4 separate regions of the Homo sapiens genome follow, and regions 2, 3 and 4 are each linked to region 1. Evidence: fine-mapped expression QTL. A gene starts in region 1. Each other region holds a variant in brackets. All regions are shown on one strand. Distances are between the middles of the regions. Region 1 holds the start of DEGS2 (delta 4-desaturase, sphingolipid 2). Region 2 overlaps EVL (Enah/Vasp-like). Region 3 overlaps EVL (Enah/Vasp-like). Region 4 overlaps LOC124903379 (a long non-coding RNA gene).

Region 1 (2,680 bases):
TCTGTCTCTAAATAAATAAATTAATTAAATTAAATAAAACGCCCGATTAAAATGTGAAACCTCCATCAAATAAGTGCAAATTAAAGCCACAGTGAAATGGTATTGTTTCCCCAATCTGACTGAAGATTACAAAGTGTGGCAACGCGCGGTGCTGACTTAGGCAGGGCGGGAGGGGCGGGCCTGTCTCAGCCTGTGGCGATTTGGTGGCATCTGGCAAAAGCCACTCTCCAGACGCAGGCCCTTTAACCCCGTAAGCCCGGGCCAAGGACGACTCACCGGGGCCACCTTGCTTGTGGGTGGGATGGGGCCTCTGGCATGAACGAGAGTGACTCCGAGTGGGTAAAGATGCCCTCCTCGCAGAGGACACGAAGCAACAAGGAAAACAGCCACCACGTAATAAGCGACATGCCAGAATAGAAGGATTCTTTAGTACAATCTTTGCTTTTTTCAAAGAAAACACGCGCGCCTCTCATTCGCGTTTGCTCCCTTCCCGGCGCTCATCCGCCCTGAACTCCAGCCTGGGGCGCCCGTGGCCGCGAGACCCAGGGGCTCTGAGCGCAGCAGGCGCCCAGTGACTGCGGGTGGAGGCCCCGCGTCGCGCAAGCTGCCTCCGCGCCAGGGAGCGCGTGCGCCTCGTAGCGCGTCCCGGGGCCGCCCCTGCGCCCTCGCGTCCCAGCATCCCAGAGCCCCGGCCCTGGCCCCGGGAGTGGCTCGCGAGGAACAGCTGGGACGCGCTCCCTGGCGCTCGGACCCGTACTGGGGTCCTCGGAATCCTCAGGTCCCAGGGAGTTTCAGACCCGGCCAGGGTGGGGGACCCTCGGGGAGCCGGCCGGGGACCCCAGGGAGGGGAGCGGCAATGGCGGAACGCCCACTGGAATTTGGGCCAGAGCTGGAGCGGCCCGTCTGGGCTCGACCCCACGACGCGACTCCAGACGGGCCAACGGGGCGGTCCCCACCGGGGTGGGCCCCGCGCGGCGCTCACCCAGTATCTCCTTGCGCCGCTGCGTGTGCGGCTGGTCGGTGTAGACCCACTCGAAGTCGCTGCGGCTCGCGCTGTTGCCCATGGTGGGGCGGGAGGCGCCGTTCGGAGCGCGGCCGGCTCGGCTCTGCTGCACCTGTCGCGGCGGCCGCGGCGCGGAACCAGCTCTGATTAGGGCGGGGGCGGGGTCCCGGCGGGGCGGGGCCAGGTGCGCCAGGCTTGGGGCGGGGCACCTCTGGCTGGGCGGGGCGGCCGGGCCCCGGCGCTCTCCAGACCCCGGCGGGTAGCTGGCGCTTTGGGAACCTCAGTTGCCTCGGTTGGAAATGGGGCTCCCCGGCAGGACCGAGGTGGCCGCGTGCCATCTGCGCGAGTCCCTGGGTCCCTCGATGCGCGGGGGCGACTGCTGCCACCGCGGCCTCCCACCGGCTCTGCGCGCCCCGCCCACCCGCGGGCAGCCGTCGGGTTTTTACCCCGGCCCGTTCTCTCCGCAGCCCCGACCCGCTCGCGGGCACGCCCCTGTGGCTCGCGCCGCCCCTGCCCCAAGGAGGAGCGGCTGGCAGGATAGGGGGACTGCGGAGGATCGGCGTGGAATGGATGCGACGGTGCCAGTAAACAGGCGCCGAGGAAAGGTTGGTGCAGCAATCCTCCCTTCCTCCACCCGGCCCTTTCACCAATAATGCAAAGGGGAGATAATGCGTCTGCAGCAACCTCACAGGGATGAGTCAGACCCACTCCTGCCTTCAGGGAACTTGAGTTCTGGATGGGGACACAGGTACAGAAGTGGCTGTTATGATTCAGGGTGATACGTGCCATGACACAGGTAGGCCCTGAAGCAGCTAGGATCCAATAGAAGGAACTTTTGCATTGGGCCTTGAGGGGTGGGTAGGAGTTCAACAGCTAGAAAAGGGAAAGGCATTGGTGCTAGGGGGAACAGCAGATGCAAACGCTTGGAAACAAGGCAGAACCTGAATGTTCTCAAATGGAAAGTCTAGTTTTGGGGAGGTAAGGGCACAGGGCCCCTCATCTTCACCCTCTCAGTGATGCCTCTGTTCCTTCTCCCACTCCCTTGGAGTTTTGGAGGGTGGACCTGCTGTGCCTGTGGGCCAGAGCCTGGCCTCGGCTGGCAGTTGCCTGGGAGCTGACTGACACATCAGCCAGCGCTGCCACAGGCTCGCACATAGTGAGGGCGTGCTTCTGTGCGTCCCATGGAAGTCCATGGCCCGGGGTTTGGTACACTTGGCAGGCCTTCCTTAGCTCAGGGCCAAAGGCAGTCCTGAGTGAGCCAGGAAGGAAGGCATGGGTGTCCTGCAGCCGCCAGCCACCATCCCCTGAATTAGCCATGGGAAAGGTGGACACAGAGGCCAGATTTTCCATCAGCAGGGGGACCCACATGCCACCATGGCCATCACCCCTTGCCACACCCAGGAGGCCTCCCGGCCCAGCTTGCACCCTTGGGAGAAGACTCATTGCTCCCAGGGCAGCCTGCTCTGTTCCCAGCCAGAAGGGTCCTCAGAAGTCATCCCACCAGCCATCACTTTACAGATCAGGAGACTGAGGCCCAGAGATGAGGAGCGCCTTGCCTGAGGCACAGAGGAATTAACAGCAAGGCTGGGGCATGACTTTGGCCCCTGACCTTTGAATTAAAAAGCTTCCAAAATCAGAGCCTTCGCCCCTGTGTTGAACTCCGTGAGATCTGCCGCC
Region 2 (2,680 bases), 21 kb before region 1:
CCTCAGTAGCAGGTGCCGGGCCGAGGGGCCTGGCCGCCACACCACACGTGGGAGCAAGGCTGTGCTGGGATGTCCGGGGAGGTCGTGCTTGCTCGCCCTGTGGCTCTAGTCACTGGGTCCCTTACCAGCAGGCTCACATTCCAGAGAGACCTGGCACAGTGAAGGGCTCAGAACCAGATCACAGGTCAGGGTCAACCTGACCTAGGCCATGGGGGACTGAGAACAAGGTGCCAGGTTTTGGCTTAACTCAATCAGACCTTCCTGCCACGGGGCTCTGCACCCTTGGCATGGGTGAGGGCTTCCTGTTGGGGTGTTTAGGGGATTGGGGTGGCTACTGAGTCCCTTCACCTGTGAGGTTCTTCATCCATGAAATGAACTGACAGAGGCTGGCCGGAAGCCCTGGGAGCGGAGCAACTCGGTGGAGAAGCCTGTGTCCTCGATTCTGTCCAGGTGAGCTGCCCCAGGAAGGCCTGAGCAGCGAGGCTGGTGGGGCAGAGGCGGGCGCTGGCGCCGATTCACATGTCTGTTTCATTCCATTGCCGTAGAACCCCGTCTGTGGCAAAGAGCCCCGAAGCTAAGAGCCCCCTTCAGTCGCAGCCTCACTCTAGGTACCGAACAACCCTCCTGCTCACATGTCCCCCAGGGTTTGGGGCTCCTCTGTCCCCCGTCCCGTGACTAACACCCTTGCACGCTGTCTCACGTCCTGGCATTTAACAACTTGCTCTGCGAAGGTGGTCTGTTCTTTCAGACCCAGGACCTCGGGGTCCTGTCAGTCAGCTGCTCCGTCTTTTCCCTCTGAGAGAGAGACCAAGGGCAAGGAGGGCAGTGACCTGTCCACAGAGGTAGTGCAGGGGGGGGCCAACATGGAGTCCCAGCTCTGGACTCACTACGTGTGACAGTGGGCAAGTTAGGGGACCTCTCCAAGCCTCTGTTTTCCCCCCACAAAGTGAGGTCTGTTAACCCCTGCTGCACAGGGTGGTGGTGGGGACAGCTGTGAGCAACAGCTGGACATGGGGTGTGGTCACTAGCCAGGGCTGCACCCTACAGTTCAACCAGTCCTAGCACTGGCGCTGAGCCCTACCCCTTTCCTCCAGCCCAGAGTCCTTCCTCTGCGGCCGGCACACAGAATCAGTTTCCCCACAGACATACTGACCATATTTCCCAAGCCAAAAGCTGGCATGACAACATGATAGAATATTTGGAACTGAGATTGCCCAAAAAGGCAGAGGCAGCCAGCCACATAGTATCTGGAGGTACATGTGGCCTGAATTGGAAGGCCTCTAGAACCTGCGTCAAGAATGTCTCCATCGCCACCACAAATTGAAGGGAAACCACCCTTATCACAGAGCAGGAGGCATTGAAACTGGCCTTGCAGAGCTGAACAGGTGGTGAGAGCAGAGCAGTGCAGGTGGACAGAGATGAGGAAGTCTTAGCAGTCAGCTGG[G/A]GTTTGTCCAAGGCTTGTGGTCAGCCAGGCCGTGTGCTGGGGACAGTCCCTGCCTGCAAAGAGCACCGTGTGAACAAGGCCACTGTGGTCCTGAGGGGTGCTCTGGACAGGGTGCAGGGCCACATGGTGGAAGGGACAGGGTGCTTTGCGGAGTGGGGTGGGGCAAGCCTCTGTCGGGAGCTGGCATTTTCGTTGACCCGGACGAGGAGGAGTCTGCTCTGCGGAGATCATGGGGACAGCCTCCCAAGCTGAAGGAAGGGTAAGTGCCAGGGCCCTGAGCCTGCAGCCACCCGCCAAGCTCCCCCGCACCTCCACCTGGAAGCAGACAGGCCATGGGGCAGGGGAACGGGAAGGGTGAGGAAGAGGGTGTGGGGGAGCGCGGAGTTAGAAGTTTGCATTGTGTTCATGCGCAGGGCCCAGTCATGGAACTTGAGGCACAGGGTGCCATGGTGGAGGCTGGGAAGGGGAAGGCAACCAGAGTGGGCAAAACGAGGGCCCTGGAGCAGACACGGCAGCAAGGGGAGCCTGCAGCGCTCCCAGCGGACTCCGCCACGTCCTGCTGGTGGAGCAAAGGCGGGCTGCCATGTTGTGAGTGGCCAAGGGTCGCTCACTGGGCAGGAACATTGTCAAGGCCATTCATGCTTGGAATAGGGTCTCTCTTCAGCTCTGAGGCAAATCTGTTCTCTAATTTTCAGATGACTTCAAGGGGAACGTGTACCACCACCCCTCTGGTGCGTCACATTGCTTAGGAAGCCTGCTGTGTTTATCACTGGGTGGCTGTCAGGGCTGAGATGGAGAGGGCCAGGGCCTGGCGAGGTGGAGCAGTCGGCCCAGGTGTCCCAGCAATTGTTGCTGGAACAGGGTCTGGAACCCACAGGAGAGGCCTGAAGGACCCAGGGCCCTCTGGCTGGATGCGTTTGCCTATCAGGACCCAGAATTACTTACAGACCTGTTTAGGGCTAGGCTTGGCCTCTTTCTTGAGCTCATCTGGAGGGGTGTGGCAACACTCATTCTTCATCCTTATTCTCCCTGGCTGTGGGCAACACTGGTCCTCAGTGTCACCAGATGGTCCTCCTCTGTGCCCATGACCCCTCAGCAGCCAAGGCTGGCCCTGCCAGATAAATGTGTGTGCCCATGATCACACCCAGGGGCACAGGCCACATACGTTTCCCTGAAACCTTGGGCTCCAGCCTCCATCCCGTCCATGTGGGAGGGAACTTGGGTCCCAGCAGTGTG
Region 3 (2,680 bases), 33 kb before region 1:
TTCTAGGTGTGTGGCTCCTGCTGGGGAGGTTTCAGCAGTTTGAGCAGAGACACTAATGTAGATGCTGCTGGGAGCTTTTCAGACCTTAATGCTAAAAGGGGCTTTTCCGTAATTTTTTTTTTTTTTTGAGATGGAGTCTTGCTCTGTCACCCGGGCTGGAGTGTAGTGACGCAATCTTGGCTAACTGCAACCTCCACTTCCTGGGTTCAAGAGATTCTTCTGCCTCAGCCCCTTGAGTAGCTGGGATTACAGGCGCGCGCCACCACACCCAGCTCATTTTTGTATTTTTAGTAGAGATGGGGTTTCACCATGTTGGTCAGGCTGGTCTCAAACTCCTGGCCTCGTCATCCGCCCGCCTCACCCTCCCAAAGTGCTGTGATTACAGGCGTGAGCCACCACGCCCAGCCATTCCATAATGTTTTAGTTAAGGCATACACCCTACAAGAACCCCATGAAATAGATGTTTCTGGCACTCCCACCAAGCCCAGAGCTGCCTTCAGAACAATCCTTAGCCCTGTGTTTCCACAGCACATGTTCAGTTTGCACCACACGAGCTGAGCTCTTGATGCTGTCTGTGGCCTGGATGATTTCTTAAAGTGCCTCCCACTCCAGAACTCGATCCCTGGATTCTGGAGATGTATCTGGGCCTCAGTGTCCTCACTCAGCTTGCCTTTAAGAGCACCCTGAGGCCACCCTGCCATAAGGCACTGGGATGTGAGTTCCCACTGCTGTGCACGTAGCAGTGTGCCACGGTGCACCAAATGGCCCTCTAGACGAAGGCGGGCCTATGACCGCTCAGTGGTAAAGAAAATGAGGAGTGTGGCCTTTGTGTCCATTTCTGCTGGCAACCAAAACACACCTGAGAACTGTCCCAGGAAGCTTGGCCAGGTCCACTAAGAACAGGCGTTCCTGAGGCTGGGTCTGTTGAGGCCACAGGCTCCCAAAAGCCAGGTGCGCCCATCTAGCCCAGGGAAGAGCTTGGTCACTCTGGGGAGTGGAATCACACTGGCCTTCCATAAGGAGCTCTGTGTTCAGTGTGCCTGAGACTCAGGAGACAGCCGGTGCTCCCACTTGCGGGAGCTGGACCCAGTCACATCCCCCTCCTCTGTTAAGTGGAGGCAGCCGTGGCACACAGTGGCGCTTGTGGAGCGCTGGCGAAACCTGACTCTGAAGCC[G/A]GGGCCGGCGGGTACAGCACAGGCACAGAGTGTGGTGGTCTCCAGAGTGGAGGAGTCAGACTGCCCTGCTGTGATTACTTTCCAGACAAGTGATGGAGCAGCACCAGCAGCAGCGTCAGGAATCTCTAGAAAGAAGAACCTCGGCCACAGGTGAGAGCCCTCCTCCCCTAGGGCCGACTCCCATGCTGCTGCCAGGTGGCAGCCCCTCCACGTAGATGAGGCCCAGGGACACACGGGGCGCTCTGTGAGCAGCTATGGGGAGCCTAGGTCTCAAAGTGCAACCACCACTTCAGATGGTGAGGGTAGCAAGAGAGCAGAGCAGAGGCTTGGGGAGTCTGCTCAGCTGGGTCTGGCCACTACCTGCCAACCTTCTCCGGAGTGGACATTCAGCAAGCACCTCCTGTGTCTCAGGCACCGTGCTAAGGGCTGGGGACACAACTATGACTGCAGATGCAGTTCCTGCCCTCAGGAAGCCCGCTGTCCACTCAAGGAGACAGTGAACCCACCCTTGTCATGTCACGTAGTGAACACTGTGGCAAGTGACGTGCAGGTGCTGAAGGCCTACCTTGGGTCAGGAAGACTTCCCACAGGAGGCGCTGCCACGCGTCTGTCTTGGACGTTCGGTGGAGCTTAGCACGTTAAAGGAGAAGGACGAGGGTTTTCCAGAAATTGTCATGTTCACTGATAGGCAAAGGACTGGATAATTTACCAAGTGCTTTCATGTCCTTTGTCTTGTTTAATTTTCTCAAACACCCTATGAAGTGAGCAGGTGACTATTATCCTGTTGACTGATGAGAAACCCGAGCCCCCACTGGTTACAGGAACGCTCTGCTCGTGAGATGCTGGCTGACCCCATCACCCCCACCTAGCTGCTGCTGGCCTCCTGCTCCCCGGCCAGTCTGCATTTCTGATGCAGGTCTGACACTGTCATCATGTCGTCCCTTCCCCATCACTCTTGGAACAGCCTGTGCCTGCCCTCTCTCCCTCTAGTGCCTCGCAAGCACTTCCCATCCTTTTCCTCCTTCCTCACACTTGCCTCCCCCCTTCACCTAACTGAACCCCTGCTCTCCGGTCGTGTCCCAGCTCCACAGTCACTTCCGTGAGGACGTCATGGAGGACGTCCGTCTTCCATGAACTTCTGGCCAGGCTGGAGCCCCTCTTTGTATGCCAACATGGCGCCGTGTGCCTGCCCTTGGTAACACTTGTCAGCTTGCCACAGTCCTCCATCTGCGTTTACCTCTGCGATTCGTTGACTGTTCCTCATAGGCTGTGAGCACCCTGAGCAGAGAGCTTGTGGCTGGTTTTCCTCAGCACCATACCCAGCACCTAGCACAGTGCCTGGCACAAAACAGGCTTAGGCAGCACTGGCGGAAGGGGCTGGATGGATGATGCTGGAGCCCAGCACTCGGCATTGCGCCCTGACCCATGCCCCCAGTCGGCCCTGGGACCCACAGGACCTGCCACGGCCCCCAACGACCCAAGTGTCAGTCACAGTTGGATCTTGG
Region 4 (2,680 bases), 120 kb before region 1:
TATTAGAACCAAAAAAGTTCCTTAGGTATCCCCTTGTTCAGATCTCTGTGAGTCCCTCTTTTGGACATGGTATTTACCTTTCGCTTCCCCAGAGCAGACATGGCCAGTTCCCTTGAGGTATTTCCAGTGGGTAAGGGAAAGAGAAGTAATATTTCCGAAACAGCCACTATGTCCCAGGCAATATATAGTTATTTTCTTTCATTCATTCAGAGCTAGACATTAGGGATACAAATGGGATAGCTTCCATTTATTTATTCAACTATTGAGGGCCGAGAACTGTATTAACAATATGTCATTTCATTAACACCACTTTCAGCAAGTTAGAAATTACAGAGGAGGAAACACACCTAGACAGGGTCAGAGCTTGGTTGTGATCACCAGGTTAGTTAGCAACAGGACTGGAACTAGCTCTGTGGATTCCCATTCTGCTGCTTTTCAGTGAGGGGAAAGTGTAGACTAAGGAAAGCTGAAATCATCCTGGGTAGGATACTGTAGACGGAGAGCTGCAGGCAGCAGAAGGAAGTGCCTGGCAACCAGCTCTGTAGATTTAATAAAGCACCACGTTGGCCATGTCTATAGAATTAAGAGGAAAAGAAGGAAATTAAAATCTGAAGAAGTTGTGGCAAGTGGACAGAATTGCTAAGCATGGACAAAGCAAATAAATCCACAGCAGGTTTTAAACAAACTGATCTTATCATGCTCTTGTCTGGACAAACTTCCCAGCTCTGTTGGGCCTTCAGAATATTTAATTCTGACTTGCCATATCAAAGAGCAGAAGCGATGGACTCAGATGGCGGACAAGGTTGCCCACCACTGCCTCCTCTCGGTTTTGAAGCCCACGTGGTCTGGACAGCCAGGGCTCTTAGTCCCAAATCAGGATACTGTCTTAACAAGCGGAACAAGTCTGGGTCCCATTTGCATTTCACTTGTCCCTTTGTGCCATTAAACTTCTTTATTTTTAATAAGCTAGTTTTATTAATTGAAAAATTATTAACTGCTCATAATAAAAAGCTTAAACAGAATAATGCTAGAACTTCACTGATATCCCTCAACTCTTGGCAGAGGCCACAGCTTGGGTGGGTAGCTGTCAGAGATGGTCTTAGGTACCACTTAGTACCCTGTGTGCTGTGCCCTGGGGTGTGTGTGTGTGTGTGTGTGTGTGTGTGTGTGTTGCTGTAAAGAAAGAATATAACTTTGTACTCACAAAGATCAGAAACTAGGGATACAGTTTGGGTTATTGGTTACTT[T/C]TCCAACTTTTTTAGTTCTCTTGAATATATCCTGCCTCTCCCAAAAGCAGATGAATTCCTCAAGAGTGGGGACTGTGTTTCCTTCTGCAGCCATGACCCATAGGGCCCAGGACTGGCTTCTCAGATTTCAGAAAATAGAGTCATTAACCAAGTCACCAAATAAGTATAAGAACTGAAGGGAAAAAGGACAGGTAAGAACATTTGAGCTTTTCAAAGTTAAACCTTGGGGACAGAGACCCTGTGGGAGACAAATATTTTAAAAATAGGATTCCTCATATGAATACCCCATGATTTCAGCTTTTCTCACTTTATGAAGTTCAGTTATTTTCTAGTTAAAACAATCCTTGTTAGAGGCCATTTATTTATTTATTTGAGACGGAGTTGCACTCTTGTTCCCCATGCTGGAGTGCAGTGGCACAATTTTGGCTCACTGCAACTTCCGCCTCCCAGATTCAAGTGATTCTCCTGCCTCAGCCTCCCAAGTAGCTGGGATTACAAGCATGCACCACCACACCTGGCTAATTTTTGTATTTTTGGTAGAGACAGGGTTTTGCCATGTCGGTCAGGCTGGTCTCAAAGTCCTGATCTCAAGTGATCCACCCACCTCAGCCTCCCAAAGTGCTGGGATTACAGGCGTGAGCCACTGCACCCAGTTGTTAGAAGCTTTTAAAGCAAAACTTTAAGTCACATGAATAATTTGGACACATAATATGGGTAAAATAACTAGAGTTACTGAAGTGTTGAATAAACCACATTTAAGAAATTTCTAAATAAACAACAACAGTGAAGTTCTCTGTACAGTAGGGGATGGTAAGTAGTTTCCTAGCCTGGAATTGGTCTATATCTTCACCCACTCTGTTCTCTCTGGCTTGTGTGTCTGGGTGGTGTGGCTGACCCCATGAGCTGCTTTTTGTTTTTAATAGAGACAGGGTCTCGCTCTGTTACCGAGGTTGGAATGCAGTGACGCGATCATGGGTGTCACGACCTCCTGGGTTCAAGTGATCCTCTCACCTCAGCCTCCTGAGAGGCTGGGACCACAAGTGCACACCACCACACTGGGCTAATTTTTTAACTTTTTTGCAGAGATGGAGTCTTGCTGTGTTGCCCAGGCTGATCTCAAACTCCCGGGCTCAAGGGATCCTCCTGCCTTGACTTCTCAAAGTGCTGGGCCTACAGGCATGAGCCACTGTGCCCAGCCCCCATGAGCTGTTGATCTTTGTGGCTTCTGTCCCTTTGTGTTTGCTTGTGGCACTTGGACAGCCTTAGCAAACGGCTCAATGCACAGTGATCCTGTTACTAGCACTTTGCTGCCCTTACTACAGATTTTTACCAGCTCCTTTTGTTCCGCTTTTTTCTCTCTCCTCCTTTCTTTATGCATTTTTAACATTACTGTATTTTTTCTCTTGTGAACTCTTCCTTGTTCACAATCTACC

What was found. PIP is the estimated chance that this variant, and not a neighbour inherited with it, causes the effect. A credible set is the group of variants that fine-mapping cannot tell apart.
Region 2: its variant is the best candidate, but not a certain one, in a credible set for the expression of DEGS2 in lung (TOPMed, PIP 0.73).
Region 3: its variant is the best candidate, but not a certain one, in a credible set for the expression of DEGS2 in sun-exposed skin (GTEx, PIP 0.59).
Region 4: its variant is the best candidate, but not a certain one, in a credible set for the expression of DEGS2 in whole blood (INTERVAL, PIP 0.56).

The regions. Positions count from the first base shown.
Region 1 is chr14:100,158,524-100,161,203 of GRCh38, forward strand. DEGS2 (delta 4-desaturase, sphingolipid 2) reads right to left here and starts at 1,122. Exons shown (of 3, transcript NM_206918.3): 1 at 983-1,122. The coding sequence starts at 1,064. It overlaps LOC124903380 (a long non-coding RNA gene), which reads left to right and starts at 1,514. Exons shown (of 2, transcript XR_007064330.1): 1 at 1,514-1,608. RefSeq lists silencers at 909-968, 1,069-1,468.
Region 2 is chr14:100,137,195-100,139,874 of GRCh38, forward strand. It overlaps EVL (Enah/Vasp-like), which reads left to right. Exons shown (of 14, transcript NM_016337.3): 10 at 384-450; 11 at 546-608. Among named protein-coding and RNA genes, the nearest start is that of DEGS2, 21 kb to the right of the region's middle. RefSeq lists enhancers at 1,160-1,865, 1,194-1,343, 1,866-2,570. The variant G/A (reference allele first, on the strand shown) is at 1,445.
Region 3 is chr14:100,125,447-100,128,126 of GRCh38, forward strand. EVL (Enah/Vasp-like) reads left to right here. Exons shown (of 14, transcript NM_016337.3): 5 at 1,261-1,325. Among named protein-coding and RNA genes, the nearest start is that of MIR342, 17 kb to the left of the region's middle. The variant G/A (reference allele first, on the strand shown) is at 1,176.
Region 4 is chr14:100,037,635-100,040,314 of GRCh38, forward strand. LOC124903379 (a long non-coding RNA gene) reads right to left here. Exons shown (of 2, transcript XR_007064329.1): 2 at 1-2,680. It also overlaps a transcript of EVL not described here. Among named protein-coding and RNA genes, the nearest start is that of EVL, 26 kb to the right of the region's middle. The variant T/C (reference allele first, on the strand shown) is at 1,248.